2 linked regions of the Homo sapiens genome follow. The protein of the gene in region 1 interacts with the protein of each later gene in a pairwise test. Each region holds a gene or a part of one and is shown in the gene's direction. Other genes may lie near its edges.

Region 1 (3,500 bases):
TAAGAACCTCGATAGCAATGCGGTCGTGATCATGGTGAATTACATCTTCTTTAAAGGTAAGGCCCTTGGGCCCAAACCTGCACTTTCTTTGGCTTTTCTGCTGCTTTTATCTAAAGAATACCCAATTCCCTCACATACATAAAAGACGGGGAGTACGTTAAGTTCTTTTGGGTGCCTGTTGAGAAAAATTAAGTAAACAAGCAGCCAGAGAAGGTAAGATGAATGCCTTCTTGCTGTGGATGGGATTAGTGAGGCTGAGATGCTGTTTCCTCCACGGAGGAAGAGCTGGTTGCTGTCTTCGGGCCCCTGGGGACATCTGAAGCCCCAGCTTTCTACAGGCTCTGAAGTATGAACCCATTGTGGCCACCATGGCAAAGACACCAACACCTTAGCCACTCAGGGCAGGACACAGACCCCAGAAGGGCTTAAAGGGCATTTCCCAGTCCCCCGTATCCCTCAGATCTTGGCCCCTCTGCCCTCATAGAGGCCAAGACTCCCTCAGACAAATGCTTGTTCCTCTGAAATGCCTCCTCCTGACTCCTCAGCAAGAGCTGACCTCTGCTTATCTCCCCGACACTCCTTGTAAGCATTCCTGCTCGCCTCTGCAGCTCCTGCCAGTTGCTGACCCTGGGGAAAGCAAGAGTGGATAGAGAGGAGAAGAGAGGAGAGGAGAGGGTGGGAAGGGTTGCGAAGGAAGGTAAATTGTTAACACCTCCCCTTCCTATGGTCACAGATCATGAGTATCTTTGGCCATTTGGGTGGCTATAACAAAATACCATAAACTGGGTGGCTTAGCAACAACAAACATATATTTCTCATAGTTCTGGAGGCTGAGAAGTCCAGGATCAAGGCACTGGCAGATGCAGTGCCCATTCCTTGGTTCATAGAGAGTGCCTTCTTAGTATATCCTTGCTGGAAGGAGGAAGGCAGCTCTCTGTGGTCTCTTTTGTAAGGACACCGATCCTGTTCATGACAGCTCCACCCCCATGACCTAATCAACTCCCAAAGGCCCCCTGTCCTAATACCACCACCTTGGGGGTTAGGTTTCAACATATGAACAATGTGGGGACACAAACATTGAGACCACAGCAGTGAGTGTCGAACTTGGACTCTGAGATTTCCTATCCCCTGGTGCAGGGCAGTCCCCATTACACCAGATTGCTGAGGGCAGCTGGGAAATAAGCTAAGGACGGTATTGACTGGGGTCTTCCTTCGATAACGATTAAGAAGTTGGAAACAGGCCAGGCATGGTGGCTCACGCCTATAATCCCAACATTTTAGGAGGCCGAGATGGGCAGATCACCTGAGGTCAGGAGTTCGAGATCAGCCTGGCCAACATAGTGAAACCCCGTCTCTACTAAAAAATACAGAAATTAGCCAGGCATGGTGGTGGGCGCCTGTAATTCCAGCTACTTGGGAGGCTGAGGCAGGAGAATCACTTGAACCTGGGAGGTGGGGGCTGTAGTGAGCCAAAATTGCGCCACTGCACTCCAGCATGGGTCACAGAGCGAGACTCCATCTCAAAAAGAAGAAAAAAAGAAAAAAAAGAAAAAAAGAAATAAAATAAAATAAAAAGAAGTTGGAAACAATCACTTGTAGCGTTTTGTTCAGAAGTTCCCATAGGAAGGTCAGAGAAGGGTCATTGAAGACTTCCCAATGGGAAAAACCATTCATTTCCAGGATCCATACTAACTTCTTTCTAAAATTTAAATCAAAATATTGGAATGAAAGTGCAAACAGAGAAGTTCACCCAGATATCAGGTAGCATTCACAGCCAGCCACATTTTTCACCCTCTTCACTTGGAGATTTGGTCTTGAGTAAAACGTTAGAGAATCAGAGAACATCAGGGGTCCAGGGCCTCTGAAGATGTGAAAACCAACCTCCTTGTTTTGCAAATGTGGAAGGAAAAGTCCCACGAAAAGTCCAAGAATGTGCCCAATGTTATAAAGAGACTTGCCTTCATATTCAAGAGGTTCAACAGTCACTGCTCTGGGGCTGCCATAAAGATGGTCTCCGCTGGCTATCTTTACTGTCTTCACTCCTTTTATTTGCAGCTGAGAATTTCTAATTCTGACACAAAATTCTTTTTCATTTTTCCCTTTTTTCATCTTTAGCTAAGTGGGAGACAAGCTTCAACCACAAAGGCACCCAAGAGCAAGACTTCTACGTGACCTCGGAGACTGTGGTGCGGGTACCCATGATGAGCCGCGAGGATCAGTATCACTACCTCCTGGACCGGAACCTCTCCTGCAGGGTGGTGGGGGTCCCCTACCAAGGCAATGCCACGGCTTTGTTCATTCTCCCCAGTGAGGGAAAGATGCAGCAGGTGGAGAATGGACTGAGTGAGAAAACGCTGAGGAAGTGGCTTAAGATGTTCAAAAAGAGGTACTTTCAGACTACCCCAGGGCCAGCCTAAACCCACACAGCCCCAGGGAGACACACACGCCCTACCAGGGCCACACAGCACTGGTGGGAAGGACTCACCCAGCCAAGGAGCTGCCTCCAGGCCCAGAGGCATCCTGTGACATCCAAGTCCTGGGGGCCTAGCCCAGTTGGAGGGACAAGAGCTGGAAACTGGGTTCCTTAGGGTGGTGCCAGAGTGGGCAGAGACCTCTGGGCAGCCCACGTCCAAGTCCAGAGCAAGGGGAGGCTCATCCTAGAAAAGAGGCCAGAGGAGCCATAACCACCATTGTTCCTTGGGTTAAGGAGTCCTTTTTTAAAACCATCAAAACTAAGAATCCAGTGCATTATGAATCCAAGGGGTGAGGCTCAGTGTGCCAATGCCCCAGAACAGTCTAAGAAAGCTCCTTTTCCCTTTCCAGGCAGCTCGAGCTTTACCTTCCCAAATTCTCCATTGAGGGCTCCTATCAGCTGGAGAAAGTCCTCCCCAGTCTGGGGATCAGTAACGTCTTCACCTCCCATGCTGATCTGTCCGGCATCAGCAACCACTCAAATATCCAGGTGTCTGAGGTGGGTTCAGAAGCTCCTATGCATCTGCTTCCCAAGGTCTATTCTGTTCTATTCTTTCTATTCTACTCTACCCCATTTCATTCCATTCCATTCCACTCAACTCCACTCCACTCCACTCCACTCCAGTTCACTCTATTCAATTCCACTCCACTCCACTCCAGTTCACTTTATTCAATTCCACTCCACTCCACTCCAGTTCACTCTATTCAGTTCCACTCCACTCCACTCCACTCCAGTTCACTCTATTCCATTCCACTCCATTCCACTCCTCCACTCCTCTCATCCACTCCACTCTACTCCTCCACTCCACATCTCCACTCCACTCCTCCACTCCACTCCTCCACTCCACTCATCCACTCCACTCCTCCACTCCACTCCTCCACTCCACTCCTCCACTCCACTCCACTCATCCACTCCACTCTTCCATTCCACTCCATTCCACTCCTCCACTCCACTCTTCCACTCCACTCCATTCCACTCCTCCACTCCACTCCACTCTATTCTATTCTATTCCATTCCATTCTACTCT
Region 2 (4,032 bases), on another chromosome or scaffold:
ATTGAAACTAAATGCTCTTAGGAAGTCACACTGGACTGGGATGCATTGGCCTCTCATTTAACTAGCAATGTGACCTTGGCCAGGCCCTTTTATACAAGTACTCCTCAGTTTTATTAATTAGAAGGAACTGATGAGATGCTCTTTTAAATATCCCATCATTTCTAAAGTTTTATGATTATCGATGCTTACTGTAAAAGAAATACAACATACATATTTGAGAAAACATTACAGAGAACAGGGAGGCCCAAACATAGATGGTGCATCTCATCAACATTCTAATATAGAGTAATGATCACTGGCTCTAAACAAACTTTGCAACCAAACAGAAACTTCGTATCTGCTAATCTCACGTTGCTCCCCAAGAAAAATCTAACTGAATGTTCTGGAAAAGTAGTGGAAAAGTTAATTGTTTGCAGAAAGTTAACTTTTACCTGAAGTGACAAAATAAAGTGGTTACCCAAAGGGGTAAAACCTAGCGTTGGAGTTTATCTTATGGGTGTAGTAGATTTGCCTTAAACTCAAAGATTTGTTTTGCTGGGTTAATGGGTGTCCAGTGGATCTTGAGGATGAGAAAGGGAAGGAACTCTGTTCTATGTGTGGGAGCCTCTAACCCCTTAATTTCTACCCAATTAGAGATTTTTACTCAGTTTCATTTTTAGCGTGTACATATCCTTTCTATCATTGCCTTTATTCAAGGATAGTTTCCCTTTAAGATAATCATTAAAAATTTCTTCAGTTTTTAAAATCTTATCATTATATAGTTCACCATTATAAAAACCACAAGAGTCATGTTTTGCAAGATTTTTATAAAAAGACTTTTTACATCAAGATACTTACTGATTCAGACAAGGAACAATCCCTTTTTCTGTTTTAAACTACATATCAAGACTCAGAAAAATCCATAAACTTTCAGGTAACTTGTGTCTCTTTGCAGGCAAACCTAATTAGTGAAGATATTGAAAGTGCAATCAGTGACAGTAAAGGAGGGAAACAGAAGAGGCGGCCCGACGCCCTGAGGTAAAAGCATTGAAAGAAATCAAGGAGTGGAATTGATTTGTTTCTAAGGCTTTTTTCCCCAAAGAGTTAGAAAAATTATTTTCTATGGAAGTATATTATTGTATTGTATAGATCATAACCTGTAGTCTCAACACATTTGTTCTCCCAAGTTTGTCAGTGTGTTTACTCCTCTTCTCTCCATATTTTTGGTCTTTCTCTGATATGGCTTCACTTGTGTTGGAAGTCACAGAGTCATGAAAGATGAGTGGCATTTTAAGAGAAGGTATCCTAGGGAAATACAAGCTAGACAGTAGGATTGTAATTGTTCCATGGCCCTTTCAAATCACATAAGACTCAGAAGGAAAATCAACCTAGTTTTCAGCTGACTATTAATTTTTTTATTTCATATGCATTCATAAATATGCATAATGTGTAATGCTTAGGAAATCCTTATTGTCCCTTGACATAGTTCTTTTTGAATTTTAATAACTAGTACCACAAGTTGAGTTAATTGATATGTTATAGAAATAGAGATGGTAAAAATTCTATTTGTTTTCATCTTTTTAAGGATGATTTCCAATGCAGACCCTAGTATACCGCCTCCACCCAGAGCTCCTGCCCCTGCGCCCCCTGGGACCGTCACCCAGGTGGATGTTAGAAGTCGAGTGGCAGCCTGGTCTGCATGGGCAGCCGACCAAGGGGACTGTGAGTCTTCCTAGAATTAATACTTATTGAACACTTACTTTGGGTTGGGACATAGTTCTTGCTTTCAAATTCTGATGCTGATTTCAGAACTGAAGCTTGAGGTTAGTTTTTAAAAAATCAACTCTGGCCGGGCGCAGTGGCTCATGCCTGTAATCCCAGTGCTTTGGGAGGCCGAGGCGGGCGGATCACCTGAGGTCAGGAGTTTGAGACCAGCATGACCAATATGATGAAACCCCGTCTCTATTAAAAATACAAAAATTAGGTGGGTGTGGTGGCATGCGCCTATAATCCTAGCTACTGGGATGGTTGAGACAGGAGAATCACTTGAACCGGGAGGCGGAGGTTGCAGTAAGCTGAGATCACGCCATTGCACCCCAGCCTGGACAACAAGACCAAAACTCCATTTCAAAAAAAAAAAAAATCAAATCTTAGATAAAATAAAGTTAAGCCTTGAATTTTGTTAAGATTATTATCTGTAAGAGTTTAGACCCACCATTTAATAAATATGGTATTAGGGTTAGAGTCTTTTTATTTTTTTAATGCTAAGAGGAAGTTTTACTTGATTGACAAAAAGATGGCAACAAAATATATACAGGTTTTTCTTAAAGATTGCACTTAACATTCTTTCCATTTTTTATTATCTAACTAGAGTCCCTTTTTGGACAAGTTTGTCATATTCATGGAAAGGTTGTCAGGACAGTGGTTGGCTGCTGGCAGTGGAGAAGGGTAAAAGGTATCCATCATATGACTGTTCTTGTCAAGTGGGCCCTATGAGCGTGGCATCATTTCACCTTGGCATTCTGTTTAAAAACAATTATAACATAGAACTTAGTGTTACTTTTTATATGTTAGAATATTTTACTAGAATCTGAAATGTTTATAACTAAAAAAATGCCTTAAAATATGTTTGGTCTAGTATCTTCATTTTAAGGACGAATAAATTGTGATTCAGCAGGCTCCAATCTGATGAACTCTAGAGCCTCATTCTTTTGCCGCTACTCCAGTGGAACTTCTTAACTTCTTATTCTTTATCCAGTAAAGTATTATTCACACAGGGTATCTGGCACTATAGTTAAACGATATAACTCATTTCCAAAAATGAGTCACCTCGGACTCTACTTTGGATGTGCAGAGTAAAAGTTGGACTCTGAAGCAAGACCTGATATGTCTACCTGTGTGGTCTTGGGAAGTTATCTCTCTGTACTTCGGTCTCATCTCTGAAATGGGGATAATAATTCATGGGTTGCTCTGAATCTGAAAGTAAATAATGTTTATGGTAGTACCTACTACAAAATAGTAAGCATAATTTGTGGTTTTCATTTTGCCAAATTGAGTTCATTTTCTTTCTGAATTGTTTTCTATTTTGTTTAGGTTTCTTGTATTCTTAAAGGTTTTTTCAGAGGTTGAAATGTAAGCCGAGCTACCAAAGATATGAAAAAAAGAATTCTTTGATGCATTTATTTAAAAAAAAATTAATTAACAGAGATATGTAGTTTAATTTTATAACAGTTTCCGTTTTCATAAGTTATGTAAATTTGTATTGATCTGCTTTGTATTTAAAATGTGTTTAAAAGACAGTAATTTATTGTATTCTATACTTTTTGTGTACTTATGGTGTTTTTGTTGTTACTGTTTCGATGAAGAGGGTCTGAAGTAGAGGAAGGATAAGACAAGTTTACAGACATTCTGAACAAACCTGTAAAAATATATGTTGAACCTAATATATATAATATATATTATGTATATTATATGTTGAACCATATATATATGTGTGTGTGTATATATATATATATATATATATATATATTATTTTTTTTTTTTTTTTTTTTTTTTTTGAGATGGAGTGTTGCTCTGTCACCCAGGCTGGAGTGCAGTGGTGCGATCTCAGCTTACTGCAACCTTTGTCTCCTGGTTCAAGCGATTCTCCTGCCTCAGCCTCCCAAGTAGCTGGGATTACAGGCGTGTGCCACCATACCTGGCTAATTTTGTATTTTTAGTAGAGATGGAGTTTCACTGTGTTAGCCAGGATTGTCTTGATCTCCTGACCTCGTGATCCTCCCGCCTCAGCCTCTGAAAGTGCTGGAATTACAGGCGTGAGCCACCATGCCCTGCTGAACCTAATATAATTTATAACAAAGACAGAATTTATCCCTAGGGGTTTCTGAGCTTTCATTAAATTTTATCTGAAATATTTTCTGCAATGTCATCTGTTTAAGTGAGATAAGGCTTTCAGAACTTCTAATTTACCACTAGCCTAAACAGAAGACTTATTATATCAGGTTTGGCCTGGGTCCAGTCCAGTTTTTAGTTGGAAAGCCCCTCAGGAGGAAT

What was found.
Region 2: the proteins of SERPINA5 (region 1) and EPS8 interact in a two-hybrid assay, tested with the Homo sapiens proteins (one large-scale study listed by BioGRID and IntAct).

The regions. Positions count from the first base shown.
Region 1 is NC_000014.9:94,587,926-94,591,425, forward strand, and holds part of SERPINA5 (plasma serine protease inhibitor preproprotein), read left to right. Parts: coding exon 1-56; intron 57-2,115; coding exon 2,116-2,386; intron 2,387-2,823; coding exon 2,824-2,971; intron 2,972-3,500. UniProt on the Homo sapiens protein: Heparin-dependent serine protease inhibitor acting in body fluids and secretions. Inactivates serine proteases by binding irreversibly to their serine activation site. Involved in the regulation of intravascular and extravascular proteolytic activities.
Region 2 is NC_000012.12:15,663,425-15,667,456, reverse strand, and holds part of EPS8 (epidermal growth factor receptor kinase substrate 8), read left to right. Parts: intron 1-934; coding exon 935-1,017; intron 1,018-1,564; coding exon 1,565-1,701; intron 1,702-2,350; coding exon of another isoform or gene 2,351-2,352; exon of another isoform or gene 2,353-2,663; intron 2,664-4,032. UniProt on the Homo sapiens protein: Signaling adapter that controls various cellular protrusions by regulating actin cytoskeleton dynamics and architecture. Depending on its association with other signal transducers, can regulate different processes.